2 separate regions of the Homo sapiens genome follow, and region 2 is linked to region 1. The links come from fine-mapping of genetic effects on gene expression. Tissue or cell type: whole blood. Region 1 holds a variant in brackets; the other region holds the start of a gene. All regions are shown on one strand. Distances are from middle to middle.

Region 1 (8,185 bases):
ATATATCTGAAAATATATTACTTTGTGACAGTTATTTTTAAGCTTTATACAAATGGATATCGTGCTGAAGTGGTATTTACCTTGAAGCACACTGTGATCATGACATATTTTGATGTTCACTTCCCATGTTTAGGTTCCTGCTTCTCCACGCCAATGACATGGTGAGAGAATACAGGGGGAGCTGAAGACAAACAACATAAACTTATGTTTGCAAAGCACCTTTTACTCTGTGAAATAAAGTGAGTGCAAGCAGTAAATGGAACAACAAGCTTTCAGAGTCACTGCAGGGCAAGAGCTGGGGAAGGAAGAGCTGGCTGGTCAGGGAGGATGCACTGGAGAGAAAAACCATCACTCAATTGGCTAGGACATTCCAGGACATCAGGGAGACCACACAACAGCCAGAGTGTCTCTTCTCCTCCAAATGAACGCAACACCTCTCCAGCAAGGGCACAGAACTGGGCTGAGGCTGAGTATTGCTGAGGCAATACCGTTTAGAACATAGGCACGGGTAAGGATTTCATGACAAAAACACCAAAAGCAATTGCAACCAAAGCAAAAATTGATAAATGGGATCTAATTGAACCTAAGAGCTTCTGCATAGCAAAAGAAACTATCATCGGAGTGAACAGACAGCATACAGAATGGGAGAAAATTTTTGCAATCTGTCTGTCTGACAAAGGCCTAATATCCAGAATCTATAAGGAACTTAAACAAATTTACAAGAAAAAAAACAACCCCATTAAAAAGTAGGCAAAGAACATAAACACACACTTCTCAAAAGAAGGCATTCATGTGGCCAACAAACATATGGAAAAAAAAAGCTTAACATCACTGATCTTTAGAGAAAGGCAAATCAAAACCACAATGAGATATCATCTCATGCCAGTCAGAATGGCAATTATTAAGAAGTCCAGAAACAACAGATACTGGCAAGGTTGCAGAGAAAAAGGAAAGCTTTTACACTGTCGATGGGAATGTAAATTAGTTCAACCCTTGTGGAAGACAGTATGGCAATTCCTCAAAGATCTAAAGGCAGGAATAGCATTTGACGCAGCAATCCCATTACTGGATATATACCCAAAGGAATATAAATCATTCTGTTATAAATATACATGCACCTGTATGTTTATTGCAACACTATTCACAATAGCAAAGACATGGAATCAACCCAAATGCCTATGAATGATAAACTGGATAAAGACAATGTGGTACACATACACCATGGAATACTATGCAGCCATAAAAGGGAAGGAGATCATGTCCTTTGTAGGGACACAGATGGAGCTGGAAGCTGTTATCTTCAGCAAACTAATAGAGGAACAGAAAACAAAACAACACATGTTCTCACTTATAAGTGGGCGCTGAATGATGAGATCACATGGACACATGGCAGGGAAGAAAACACACTGAGGCCTGTTGCGGGGAGGGCCTGATGGGGGGAGGGAGAGCATCAGGAAGAACAGATAATGGATGCTGGGCTTAATACCAAGGTGATGGGTTGATCTGTGCAGCAAACCACCATGGCACACATTTACCAATGTAACAAAACTGCACATCCTGCACATGTACTCCAGAACTTAAAATAAAAGTTGAAGGAAACAAAAACAAAAATGAGGCCGGACGTGGGAGCTCACCCCTGTAATCCCAGCACATTAGGAGACCAAGGTGGATTGTTCACGAGGTCAGGAGTTTGAGACCAGCCTGACCAACATGGTGAAACCCCATCTCTACTAAAAATACAAAAATTAGCCAAGTGCGGTGGGGGGCACCTGTAATCCCAGCTACTCAGGAGGCTGAGGCAGGAGAATCACTTGAACCTGGGAGGTGGAGGTTGCAGTGAGCCAAGATGGCGCCATTGCACTCCAGCCTGGGTGACAGAGCAAGACTTCATCTCAAAACAAAACAAAAAACAAAAATAAAAAACCCTTTATAAATATTTGTTAAATTGGTAGGATTGTTAGCATAATTTACAAAAATTTTATTCACATTATACTATAACATATCTAAATAACATTCGTGTTAACAAATATCAACGGTTCTTTGATTTAAAAGTGGTGAAAAACAAGCTAATCATAAGTTTTATATACACCCATATATTTTCCAATAGCATGACACTGTCCAGATATTTAGAAATAGGCTATCCGGAAAAGAAAGAACTTGCTGAACTCCAGAAAATATAAAGTAGATACAATTCAAGGTTTTTGAACCTTGGAAAAGGAAGGGTAATTTTCTATAAATAATTTTTTCACAACTGTGTTTCTTATATTCATACCCGGGTATCTTAATTGGTGTATTACCAATTTGCTTCGCTAGATAGAGATATGAGGCCCAAGAACTACAAATTTCTTCAAAAATGAAGCATAGCTCTTGATATTTTGAAAAACATAATTTATTTATAGAAGAGAAACTACAGCCTGTAAGACATCTTCTTAAGGGAGACGATCTTCCATGTAATAAATTGTTGGCCCCAGGGAGAAACGTTTGCTGGGATTGATGGTGAGTAGTTTACTAGTTAATATTTCATCAGTGTACTGAGTAGATTTTTTCATTTATTCGCCCACATATATATATATATATATATATATATATATATATATATATATATATATTTTTTTTTTTTTTTTTTTTTTTTTTTTTTTGAGACGGAGTCTCGCTCTGTCTCCCAGGCTAGAGTACAGTGGCGCGATCTCTGCTCACTGCAAACTCCGCCTCCTGGGTTCACGCCATTCTCCTACCTCAGGCTCCCCAGTAGCTGGGACTACGGGTGCCCGCCACCACGCTCGGCTAATTTTTTTTTTTTTTTTTGTATTTTTTAGCAGAGACGGGGTTTCACCATGTTAGCCAGGATGGTCTCGATCTTCCGACCTCGTGATCCGCCTGCCTCGGCCTCCTAAAGTGCTAGATTACAAGCGTGAGCCACCGTGCCCGGCCAACAATTCTTAATTAATGAAAATACGCCTATGTGTAAGGGGCCCTGGACAATTACTCATCATGAGCCCTTCTTTTTTAAGTCTTTCACAGATCGTCGCAGTAAACAAAACTGTAAGACAAATTAGATAAAGAAACATGCCCATCCGCTCTGAAAGCTTGGTTAAACCAATTTTGAAGACTAAATTGTAACTTTAGACCAGTTTGCCATCCAAAGGTTTCTCTTTCTAGTTTCAGTTTCCTCTAAGCCAGGAAGAAGTTTCAGGAGATTCACAGGTTATGTAAATGAGTAAAGCAAGATAATAGGGAGTGTTAGAAACTCTGGAAAACTGGATTGCATCAGCCCCGTCAAAAAAGAATTCAAATTAAAATGTTTTGTCCAAAATTCACGTGTGGGCCTGAGTCAGTGCTCAGGTAACCAGACATCAGCCTTTGTTTTTTAAAAAGTTAGTATACCTAACTGAATGAAGTTTACATTAACTGGAATCCAGAGCTGTTTTATACAGCTCTTTGCTCAACTTCTCTTACTAAATTCCTAGATGTTTATTCAGAATTGACCTCTCTCCTGCTTCATCATCTAGCAACCGTACTAACACCATACATAGCTTGCTGCTGTCAGCAGAAAGGTACTATTAAGGGATATGGCTAGCTGCTCTTAGGAACTCATTAAAGCTATAGAGGAACTGCAGTCATGCAACATTCATCCAACAGGTATTTATAGAGCACCTACTCTGAGCATAACGAAATATCACAAAG[C/G]CATCTAGGGCAGGTTTTTCCATTTGTCCACCCCTGTTGTACCAAAAGGATTTGGATTTAGCAAATCAAGGCGTCAGTTTCCTTTCTTAGTCCTTTGGATAAACTGGTGCCTTTCATTTACCAGGAGCAAAACATTTTTTCCTTGTTATTTATAACTAAAATCACAGCAAATCTGCTTCTCATCTTGTATTTCTGAAATTGCTATAAAGTTATTCTGAACACTATACAAGTCAGTTCAGCCGATATATGTGGAGTGCAGGTACTCTACTCAACCATATGTGGAGAGTCAAAAGGCCTTTGGCCCTTATGGAGTTTATGACCTAAAATGACCACTTAGGGCTGGACGTGGTGGCTCACGCCTATAATCCCAGAACTTTGGGAGGCTGAGGCAGGAGGATTGCTTGAGCCCAGGAGTTTGTCACCAGCCCAGACAACATAGTGAGATTTCAATGCTACTAAACATTTAAAAATTACCCAGACATGGTGGCGCATGCCTGCAGTCAGGGGGCTGAGGCAGGAGGACTGTCAGCCCAGTAGTTCAAGGTTGCAGTGAGTTACGGTCAAGCCACTACATTCCAGGATGGATGACAGAATGAGACCGTGTCTCTAAAAAATATAAAAATAAAAATAATAAAATGACTGCCTACAACTCCGGTACACATTAAATGAATATACAAAATTATAATTGCACAAAAAACACAGAGCTTATTTTAGGATGGTAAAGTTTATAAATTGGTTGCCAAAGCAGAGTATGGCTGATACTTTAGTTCCACTTTTCTGTTTAATCTCAGAACTCAGGTTATTCCTCTCCTCATTTTAGTTAAGGAAACTGAAGCCTGAAGGATTAAACGCCTCATAAAGTCCATAGAGGCCAAGAGACAATAACTCGGGCTTCTTGGTGGGTGACAAGCTACACTCTGCCACCACACTTAGATGGCATCTCCCTTTCTGCACTGAATAGCAACCGCCCAATCCTGGGCCACCGAGAAAGTGTCTTAGGAACATGTTAAATGAGAATTTCATGTTAAATGTGAGGTAATGATGAAGAGTAGTATTTTTATTGTTCAACTTAATAAACCAGAATAAAAATTCTGTGCCAAGAAAAAAGTTCAAGAAGATGGTTAGAATGAAGTTTATTCCCTCCTGGGGCTCACAGATGCTTGAGGAAGAGAGACATGTGAAAACCAATTCCTGCAAATGCAATCAGTGCTGTAATGAGGTACTTGTAGGAGAGGACACAGAGGAAGCTTCTGTTTCTGCCTGGGGATATCAGGGAAGACCTGAGTAGGAGCTCACCAGATAGACAAAGCATGGAACAGCATCTCTGCATTGGGAACAGCATGTACAAAGTACACTGGGAACAGCATGTACAGAGGAGATAAGAACGAGTGTGGCTTCTTTAAAGAATTATAAGTAGTCCATACCATATGCAGAATATTTGTGTCAGGGTAAAAGATGTGACAGATCTTGAAGGGCCTTCCATACTGTGCCAAGAAGTTTGGATGATTTCTGCAGACAGCTGAGAATCACAAAAATGGGGACTCTTTAAGGGGAGAAGCATGAACAGGTTGGCATTTTTAAATGAACGCTCTGGCTGCCACGTGTGGGATGAATTAGAGGAAGGCAAGACAAGGAGGCAAGGGAATTTTAGAAAATTAATGAAACAGGACAAGCAAGAAATGATAAGGCGGTGCAATGGGTATAGAGCGAGCCAGGATAACACGGACAGTTTGATGTCCTACTGCTTCAGAGTGCTGGTGAAAGGAAGAAGTTCAAGGTGACTCTTAAGTTTCTGACTTGGGGAATCAGTTGTGTGTTGGTGCTTAACCTAAATACAGAGCAGTTTGGGGAGGAAAAAAGTGTGTTGGGATTCAACATGGGAGGGCCATTTCAATGATGGAAGGAGCAAAGTCAAGAGCTGGAAATATATGCTTGAGAATTCTCATCTTGTGGATGGTATTCGAATCCCCAAGTGTAGATAAGCTTGTCTGGAAAAGCATAGAGTAGGAAGAGAAAGATAACAAGGACAACACCAGAATGGCCAATATTTAAGAGTAAGAAGAAAAGAAGCTGGCAAAGGGAAATAAGAAAGTGGTATGAAAACAGGAGGAACCCAAGAGAGAGTGTGGTCATGGAAGTTCACAGAAGCAAGTGTCAAGTGTCCCTGAGAAGTCAAGGAGGACATGGAAAAGGACACAATGAATCTGGAGATAAGAAAATGCATTTATTTGTCCAAGTCAGTGAATATGCATGAAGCACCCATTAGGTGCATCTCCTATTCAAGGCACTGGGGATAAAGCAGTGAACAAAATAGAAAATAAAAATCCTGGCCGGGCGCGGTGGCTCACGCCTGTAATCTCAGCACTTTGGGAGACCGAGGCGGGCAGATCATGAGTTCAAGAGATCGAGACCATCCTGGATAACACGGTGAAACCACGTCTCTGCTAAAAATACCCAAAATTAGCCGGGTATGGTGGTGGGTGCCTGTAGTCCCAGCTACTCAGGAGGCTGAGGCAGGAGAATGGCGTGAACCCGGGAGGCAGAGCTTGCAGTGAGCCGAGATCATGCCACTGCACTCCAACCTGGGCCACAGAGCAAGATTGCATATCAAAAAAAGAAAAAGGAATGAAAATCCCTGCCCTCTAGGATTAGATTCTAGTCGGGAACACAGACAATGAGCAAATAAATACGTGAATATTTAATTGAATAAGTGCTCTGAGGAAAAATAAATCAGGTAAGGAGGATATGGAATTAGGGTTGGGAGAGGTATGAATCTAATGTAATAGAGTGATAAAAGGTTTCAGTGAGCAAGTGCAAAGGCCATGTAATTAAACTGATTTTTCTGGAATGTGTTTCAATCTAGGGAAAGCAAAAGCTAGACTGCAATTAATTGAAGAGTGAATGGAAAAGAGGAAGAAAATTGCTAATAAAAGAGGAGCAATGGAGTAGATAACTTCTCCTTCTCCAAGAAGCTTGATGCTAAAGGGAAAGCATGAGTTCCTAAGCACAGGTAGAAGAGGTAAAGAAAAAGTAGGAAAAAAAGGCTTAGAAACAGATAGGTGTGTAGGTTGGAGGATACAAAGCCAGGATGTGAAGTTGCACAGTCTCTCAGAGGCCATCTTTCACTCTTGTCCGTGAGAATATTGCTCCCTAGAGTTGTGAAACAGGTGTTACCAACTCACCCCCTACACTGACTCCATCTTTGCTATAAATTGGAAAGAAAGAACATCTATTCTCAATAGAGCAAGTACAGGCATATCATGGTGGTTTTGACTGGTTGGGATACAGACAATAAACAAACACATATGTAGAATTTATCAAAAAAGCTAATGTCACAATGCAAAGGGAAGTTGAATCTAGGAATAAACAAAATGTTGGCCACATAGCATTGGAAGCTCAGAGGATGGTGGGCCACTCATGGGGCCCTTTACTTACACTGTCTCATTTAGTGTTACCAACAGTCCTGTGGCCGGGTGCGGTGGCTCACGCCTGTAATCCCAGCACTTCGGGAGGCCGAGACGGACAAGAATGGTGGTTTAGAGTTCAGTCCTGTTTCCCCTTACCTGAGGTCCACTTGACAGTGGTTGGCATTTTTATCTGGTATGGATCTGGGTTTCCAAAAAATTCAGCGTCAAGATGTTCTTTCATTACTATAGGAAACGAAACATTTTTTTCCTTATTCCAGGATGTTCAATTTACTTTTTTGAGGCTAGCTAGGTAGCTACCTGGAATTTCCCTTGAAGAGACTCAAGATTTTTCCTTTATTACTATACACGGGAAGATCCAAGCGGGCCCTTAAGAGGGGTCCCTGTTATGTCTCTACTGGATGCTTATGCACGGTATCACATCATTTAGCTTGGAACAAACCTAGGGGAGAGATAACATAGCTGTCCTTAAGCACCAGAAAAGGGGTTAGACCTCTGGTTGAATGTTAGAACTAGGAATATTTAGAGACAGATTTTCCCCTCAGGTAAAGGAGGAAAAAAAACACTCTTAAAAACTTGTCCAAACATAAAAGTTGTATCTTGAGTTCTCTAACAGAGGCATTTCAAACTCTGCTATACAGACAAATGAATTATATGGTACAGATATTAAAAAGCTGAGAGTGTATCAAAGCTTAAATTTTATTTCAAAATGGCATATTTTGGGTCAAAGTATGAAAAAACAAGGGCATAGTTATGTTTTTGTTAAAGTGAAAAAAATTAGGTAAAGTTTATGTAAGTAGACTGATGACTTTTGAAAATATATCATTAAGCATGTACTTAAGTGTCAAAAACCTCAAGTCAAATCTTACAATGTATTTCAAAAGCAAAGCTAAAATTCATTCACTGTGGTTAAACTGCATTTCATAAAATATCTGTTGAAATAAACTTCATTAAAACATAATTACACAGATATTTTAATTGTATATATATCAGGTACACGGAATAAAAGTCCTACTCTCTAGAACATGAGAAGTCAATAAATAGAAAAGATATACAAAGTGGAATGAACATAAAAA
Region 2 (8,169 bases), 31 kb after region 1:
CCTCAATAATTTTTTATAAGTGGGCATGGTAAAAAAAGAAATTGACTCAAAGGATACCATGGAGATCTCAGTAGGCTGAGATGAATAGGAAAACCTGCCAAACTGCTAGGTTTTTCAAAATGGCAATTCTCCTCTAATCTCCAGACTCACCCACTCCAATGATATGTCTATTTTTGAGACACTTTTTAATATTACTGCTACACAATTATTGCAGAGAAAGCAGACCTTTTTCTAAAAGATCCAAAAAACAAACAAAAAAAACAAAACAAAAAAGATTTCCTTTCAGAACAGTTCTTTGCCAACACAGCTGACCATGAAACTGCAGGCACCTGGAGTACTGATGATTAATTAGTGTTAGTCGTTCCTCCTGTGGTCATGTGAAGAAGGTAAAGTGCCTGTGAGAGAACAGGGAAGGACAATCTGAAAGTTAGGAGGACAATGGGGACACAATGGGGTCACAAAGTCTGGGGAAGAGAGAAGCTGAAGAAAGAGGTAATGGACCACAGTGTTGGGCACTACAGAGGTCCAGTAGGATTGGGACTGAAAGGAACCATCTGATTCAGAAGGTGGGAGGTCCTGGCAAAAACATCCTGGGGATGGCTGGGCGTGGTGGCTCATGCCCGTAATCCCAGCACTTTGGGAGGCCAAGGCGGGTGGATCACCTGAGGTCAGGAGTTCAAGACCAGCTTTGCCAACATGGTGAAACCCTGTCTCTACAAAATATACAAAAGTTAGCCAGGCGTGGTGGCAGGCACCTGTAATCCCAGCTACTCGGGAGGCTGAGGCAGGAGAATCGCTTGAACCCAGGAGTCAGTGGTTGCAGTGAGCCGAGATTGTGCCATTGCACTCCAGCCTGGGCGGCAGAGTGAGACTCTGTCTCAAAAAAAAAAAGCATAGACCTAAATGTAAGAACCAAAACTATGAAGCTTCTAGAAGAAATTATAGGAGAAAATCTTAGTGACTTTGTGTTAGGCAAAGATTTCATAATCAGTATCAATATCTGGTTTGTGGAAAAAAGATTTCTTAAATAGGCAAATTCCATGAACTATGAAAGAAAAAAATACACTGAACTTCATAAAAATTAAAACCTTTTGTCTATTCATTTATTGCCATATATAAGCCACATGACGTTTCTCCTTGCTCCAGCCTGGATACAGGAAACCCTTATACGGTTGTCTATCCCAGCAGCTATCATATGCCAGGCTTCTATTTGTGTCCTACAGACTGTACATCCCTCAAGGGCAGAAAACATACCTTGCAAATGTCCTCACTGCCTAACATGTTGATAATTGCAAAGCCCAGGCATAACTGCACAGTTCCACATCTGATTAGGATGCTTAGGTCACATTACTTTCAATTAAAAAAGACTAAAAAGTTGGTAAACAATCAAATGCTCAAAAATCAGGCAATGATGGTAAATTGTGATATATATTGATAGCATATTACAGCAAATCAAATGTTTTCAAAGAACTTTTGGTTATTGGGTATATGGTCATGATGGAAATTGAAAGATATGAAATACAGAAGACACTGTTTAGAAATAGACCAAAATACACACAGGATTTTGGAACACGGTAAAAGTAGCAATTCATTTCGGGGGAGAGATGGCTTATACTCATTGGAAAGAGCCTTTCCTTTCTTTTAATGCCTAGCCACAGACCACTGACTCCACGACTGGGGGAAATGTGGAGCCCTGGGGGCAGAGAGCAAGCCTGCCCTCTGTCCCTCTGCCCCTGTGCCCCTCTGCCCACGTGGGCACGCAGCCTTAGTTAAGACCCCAATAAGTGGTAGGCTCTCTAAAATGTGTTCACAACCTTTAAAGCAGTCATTCTATTTTAGGAAGACACTGTAAGAAAATAATCCTAAAGAGAAAAATATGTATCAATTGTAGAAGGACATCTATAAGCTGCTCCATTTATTTATTTATTTATTATTTATTATTATTATTTTTGAAGCAGAGTCTCGTTCTGTCGCTCAGACTGGAGTGCAATGGTGCGATCTCGGCTCACTGCAACCTCTACCTCCAGGGTTCAAGCGATTCTCTTGCCTCAGCTTCCCGAGTAGCTGGGATTACAGGCACCCGCCACCACGCCGGGCTAATTTTTTGTATTTTTAGTAGAGACAGGGTTTCTCTATGTTAGCCAGGCTGGTCTCGAACTCCTGACTTGTGATCCGCCCGCCTTGTCCTCCCAAAGTGCTGGGATTACAAACGTGAGCCACCGCGCCCGGCCAGGTGTTCCATTTATAAAGCAAAATACAAAAATGAAATGGCTAGGGGCACGAGGCCGCCTGGTGGGTGAGAGCAGCGGCCATGGATGGCTTTGCGCAGACCAACAAACAGCTAAATTATAGAGGAACTACATATTGAAATGTAAATTCACGCATGAGGTCTGTATTAATATTGAAAATGCCTAAATAAAAATAATCTTTTTTTTCTGAGCCTGGGGGTGGGGGAGTGGAGTGGCGTGGGGGAGTTGGGGTGGAGGGGGAAAGGGTCTTTCTATGTCGCCCACTGGTGTCAAACTCCTGGGTTCAAGCAATCCTCCCGCCTCAGCTTCGGAAGCAGCTGGGAATACAGGCGCGCGCATCAAGCCCGGTTAAATAAAATCTGTTTCCCCCAGTTAAAAAAAAATTAATTTGTGTGGGTACATAGGTGTATATATTTCTGGGGTATATGGGATATTTTGATACAGGCATACACTGTATAATAATCACATCAGGGTAAATGAGGTATCCGTTACCTCAAGCATTTATCCTTTGTGTTACAATATAATCTTAAAGGGAAAAAAAGAGCAGCACAGGTAGTACTGACTGCAGCTGTACAGAAACAATGCGTGCCATAAATATTCATTTGAAAGAGAGGGGTTATGATTATTTACAATCATTAGCGAATGTAGCAACATTCTGGGCACTGACAAGAAAACTGCCACAAACATGCAGGCATAATGCACAATAAGCAAGTCCAAGCTGTGGTCGGGGCTCCCTCGCGTCCCTGTAAGCTCTGAATTTAGAATGGGGTGGACCGCCTGCTGATCAAGGGTTCTGAAAGGCCGGCGGCTAATGGACCGCCAGGGGGCGCTCCACGCACGTCTCCACGTCCCCGGGCGCACCTCGCAGCCGCGCCCGCTCGCTGCCAGGCCGCTCCCTCCGTCCCTCACCCGCCCCGACTCGCTTCCGTCCCGTCCGACGCTAGGGGGCGCCGCAGGCTGCCTGGCGCGCTGCTCGCGGCCTCGGAGGGCCGGGGCTGGGTGGCAGCGGCCATGGACCGCTTCGTTTGGACCAGCGGCCTCCTGGAGATCAACGAGACCCTGGTGATCCAGCAGCGCGGGGTGCGAATCTACGATGGCGAGGAGAAGGTAGGGCGTCTGCCAACCTTCCCAACGGGCTGGCGGAAGGGACCCCCGGTGGGCGCGCGGCCCGGCTCAGCGCGGCCCGGGTCGGCGCGGCCCGGTCCCCGGCTTAGCTCACGGCCCTCGGCGGCCCGGCAGGCCTCTGTGCGGGGTGCAGCGCTCTTGCGCTCCCCGCCGGTCGGTAGCACGTGGCGTGGGGCGCTCGGCTGCCTCCCCAGCGCGGGTCCCAACTTTGGCACGGTTCCCAGCAGGCGCGGATCGCGGCCGCTTCCCTCCGCCCGGAATGCTTCCGGGAGCGCACAGCTGCAGTGCCCGGGAGAAGGAGCGCTCGCCGTCTGCGGGCGCCGGGCGGCGATCCGGCAGTCGACTTCCTTGGCGTGGTTCCAGACCCCCTGACGACACCAACCTCGGCGTCGGCACCGGACAGCCCCGTTTCGCCTTTCTGTGAGGAGGGCGCGGTGGCCGTACAGTCCGTGCCCCAGCGGAAGCTTTAGCTTGGACCTTATGCAGTCGGAGGGATTAGCATATCTGGGCAGAGGGGTGAGGGATTGCTTCGAAAGGATTTCCTAAAGAGGTATCAGTGCTTCATTGGAATGCCCTTGCCAAAGGCTATTGGGTTTTTGTTTTGTTTTCTAATTGCTTTAGAAAGGCGTTCTGAGCGTGTTTTGTAAAGTGTTATATTAATAGTAGACCGTGCCTTGTAGTGCAAGCATAAATCTTAGAAGGTGCGTTTGCAAATCGAGAGGAGAAATAGGAAGTGTAAGTAAATATTTTGTAGATACTTTACTGAAACTATGAAATATCTTGTCCTGGATTGAAATGGATAAACTGGAATTAGAAAAATTTTAAAACTCATTTACCCACAAGCATTTTTGGTTTCCAGAAGTTTTAATTTGCTACCTCTCTTCCCTTGCCGTTTTATTAACGACACTTTCCGCTGTACTTTGATATAAGTTCCTCAACTCAGCTTTTCCTGGTAAGTGCTTACAGCTATTTAGAGGCACAGGTGACATTGGACCCAGGTCCTCTGACTCTCTTAGGGCATTTTCTATGGGCTGTGTTGCCTGTATTAGTGAGTAAAGGTCTTTTCCTTAAATAATTTGCTTGGACCTAACTTCACTTACTGCCTTAGCACTTCTTAATTTAATTAATTAATTTATTTATTTTGAGACAGAGTCTCGCTCTATCGCCAGGCTGGAGTGCAGTGGCGCGATCTGGGCTCACTGCAACCTCCGCCTCCCAGATTCAAGATCCTGCCTCAGCCTCCTGAGTAACTGGGATTACAGGCGCCTGCAACCATGCCCGGCTAATTTTTGCATATTTAGTAGAGACGGGGTTTCACCACATTGGCCAGGCTGGTCTCTAACTCCTGACCTCAAATGATCCGCCCGCCTGGGCCTCCCAAACAGCTGGGATTACAGGCTCTTGAGCCACTGTGCCCAGCCTGCCTTGGCACTTTAACTATCTTGATCTCAAGATGAGTCTTCCATCCCCGGATTGGAGTGACAAGCTATTTTTTTCTCCTTTCTTACCAATTTACATCTTTGTGACTATTTAAAATGGGAAGGTTAATCCACCTCCCCTTCCTCGGTGTTTTGATTTTGCCTCCCCTTTGAGAGGAACCGAATGTTGACAGTGTTAGATCTGTCCTCAGAGACTCCTCCAGTGCCACTCCCTGAGGGAGCACTAGGAAGTCATGCTTTTGCAGAGCATGGCATGATACTGTTCTATGGAACTCCAATTTGAAGACTAGGAACACCTTTGCTGGCAGGCAGTATAGCTGTGATAGATTTAAAACAGTGTAAAATAACAACCATTAGTAGTTTTATATGAAAGATACATTGTTGAAGCAGCAAGTTTTAATTTTTACTTTAAAATTTTTGCTGCTTGTATTAGCAGACAAGTATATAGATGTCAGAGGTTTAAGAAACAAATCATGGGGAAAACATTGCTTTAGACCCTGTGATCTAGTCCAGAATTAACTCTTCTAAAAGCTTGAAATTGGAGTGGAGCTCTAAGAGGAGTCTCCTTACCACTGTGCCCCAAAGCTGGACTTAGTGACTTGCTGAGCTGCCTTGCAGCTATGCGGTCCCTAGGCTGAATGGGGCACAGGCTGACTCCTGGGGGAAGGTGCGGTATCCTGGCTTCCTTCATCTTTTGGAAGGTTTCCAGACCTCCTGTGGTGCTAGAGACTTTACAAGGTTACACACATTAGCCCCCAAATCTGGTGAAATTAGTCTCCCTTTTAGGATGCCTCACTGGCTCCTTTGGCCTAGGGACTGCAGTCCAGATTGCTTAATATTCATAGTTTTGCATCCCAACCCATTCCCTGGGCAAGCATGTGCATGGCTGTCTTCTAGACTAGTCTGATGTTTCTGGAGCACAGAAGGTGTGCCTTGCTCATCCTTGTATCTCCTAGCTGGTTGTGGGTGTGAAACACATTTTTTTTAAACCCGAATAATTAAAGTACTATGAGCCAAGAGCTGTATATATCATCTCATTTAATCCTCTCATCAGAATATGAGGTATTTTACTGAATGAGAAAGTAACGCCAAGAGATACAGTGACTTGCCTAAGATCCACAGAGAGAAGATTTAAATCTCTGTTGATCAGACTCAAAGCCTGTGCTTTGTTCATGGAGCTACAGTGAGCCGAGATTGTGCCACTGCACTCCAGCCTAGGCAACAGAGCGAGATTCTGTCTCAAAAAAAAAAAAAAATGACTTCATAATGTAGCAGTCACCGGTGTCACCCTTGATATAATGTTTAATACAGCTAATCTTCCCAAAGATGGGGAACTGAGACCCCACAGGTGATAGCTGAGAAAACTGTGAGCTGTCTAAGGTCACACAACTAGTAACTGGTAGAGCTAGAATTGCAAACCAGATCCAATGGACTGCTCTTCCCACGCCCAAGTGCCTCTTATGAATACATGCAGACTCGCTTGTTTATACAGGCACAGTTTTCATGGGCTCATTATGACTAGATAATGTGTTACTTTCATAAGCAGTGTAGACAGGTCATTTGTTTGACTTCACAGACACTTCTGTAGCCTCAGCCAATTTAAAAAATAATGTAAGGTTAGTAATGTGTAAAGTGGCAAGTTGGCAGCATATATCAGAAGATTTAGAAAATTGTTTATTCTTTTTCAGCTAACTCACTTTTAGGAATTTACCCTTGGGAAATAATCAGAAATGCATAAAAATATTACATATGAGAATGCTCATCTCAGCATTATTATGTATTACATATAATATTATTATATATGGAAAAATTGGAAGCAATCTGAATGTCCACCATAGGGATTGGTTAATTAAATTATGGCATGGGGCCAGGCGTGGTGGCTCATGCCTGTAATCCCAGCACTTTGAGAGGCTGAGGCGGGTAGATCCTCTGAGGTCAGGAGTTTAAGACCAGCCTGGCCAACATGGTAAAACCCCGTCTCTACTAAAAATACAAAAAATTAGCTGGGCGTGGTGGCGGGTGCCTGTAATCCCAGCTACTTGGGAGGCTGAGGCAGGAGAATGGCTTGAACCCGGATGGCAGAGGTTGCTGTGAGCCCAGATCGCACCATCGCACTCCAGCCTGGGCAACAAGAAACTCCATCTCAAAAAAAAAAAAAAAAATTATGGCATGCCCTAATTAGCATGAGGAATTGCCAATGATAGGCTGCTAACTATATTTTCTAACTATACTATTAATAATAGTTATAAACCTATCATTCTATTTAAAGGTTATATATGTATACATAAACATCTGTGTATATATACATACACACTCTGGCTGGTATGAGTTATTATTTCATTTTCTTTTTCAGGCTCTAAATATTTTCGAGATTTTCAACACTGAACATGTATGACTTTTATAACAGAAAAAATGTAAATTAAAAAAAAAAGCAGGTTAAGAACTTTTCAGTGAGTGCTGAAGTTAGATCAATTTTTAAGCAGTTAAAATTATTCTAGGTTCTGAGTGGTGTAAGCAAACCAGCCTAAACTTGACTATCAGGTTTAGATCTTAATCCACTGGAATCCTGAAAGGGAACTGTTACACAATTTCTTCACTTAGAGCAGCAACATTTTACATTTGCACATTGTTAATTGAGGTAGCAGTGGAACATAGGCTGGCTCCAGCCTTAAATTAACATGTATGTGCTTGGATTTCAGTAAGATAACATACGAAGTTTCTTAATCAGAACTATATGTTCTATAATGCAGCATTATGTACTTTTTTTTTTTTTTTTCAGACGGAATCTCGCTCTGTTGCTCAGTCTGGAGTGCGGTGGTGCGATCTTGGCTCACCGCAACCTCTGCTTCCCGGGTTCAAGCGTTTCTCCTACCTCAGCCTCCCCAGTAGCTGGGATTACAGGCGCCCGCCACCACGCCCGGCAATTTTTTTTTTTATTTTTTATTTTTTATTTTTAGTAGAGACGGGGTTTCACCATGTTGGTCAGGCTGGTCTTGAACTCCTGACCTCTTGATCTGCCTGCCTCGGCCTCCCAAAGTGCTGGGATTACAGGCGTGAGCCAAGGTGCCCGGCCTTTTTTTTTTTTTTTTTTTTTTTTTTTTTGAGATAGAGTCTTTCTCTGTCGCCCAGGCTGGAGTGCAGTGGCGCGATCTCCGCTCACTGCAAGCTCCGCCTCCCGGGTTCACGCCATTCTCCTGCCTCCGCCTCCCAAGTAGCTGGGACTACAGGCACCCGCTACCACACCCGGCTATTTTTTTTTTGTATTTTTAGTAGAGACGGGGTTTCACCGTGTTAGTCAGGATGGTCTTGATCTCCTGACCTCGTGATCCGCCCGCCTAGGCCTCCCAAAGTGCTGG

What was found. PIP is the estimated chance that this variant, and not a neighbour inherited with it, causes the effect.
Region 2: it holds the start of VPS36, and the variant in region 1 is fine-mapped to the expression of VPS36 in whole blood (INTERVAL, PIP above 0.99).

Annotation. Positions count from the first base shown.
Region 1 is chr13:52,476,233-52,484,417 of GRCh38, reverse strand. CKAP2 (cytoskeleton associated protein 2) reads right to left here. Exons shown (of 9, transcript NM_018204.5): 9 at 7,791-8,185. It overlaps LINC00345 (long intergenic non-protein coding RNA 345), which reads left to right. Exons shown (of 3, transcript NR_184203.1): 3 at 134-1,936. Among named protein-coding and RNA genes, the nearest start is that of CKAP2, 25 kb to the right of the region's middle. The variant C/G (reference allele first, on the strand shown) is at 3,685.
Region 2 is chr13:52,445,686-52,453,854 of GRCh38, reverse strand. It overlaps VPS36 (vacuolar protein sorting 36 homolog), which reads left to right and starts at 3,221. Exons shown (of 14, transcript NM_016075.4): 1 at 3,221-3,356. The coding sequence starts at 3,261. RefSeq lists silencers at 2,975-3,034, 3,075-3,534 and an enhancer at 3,055-3,635.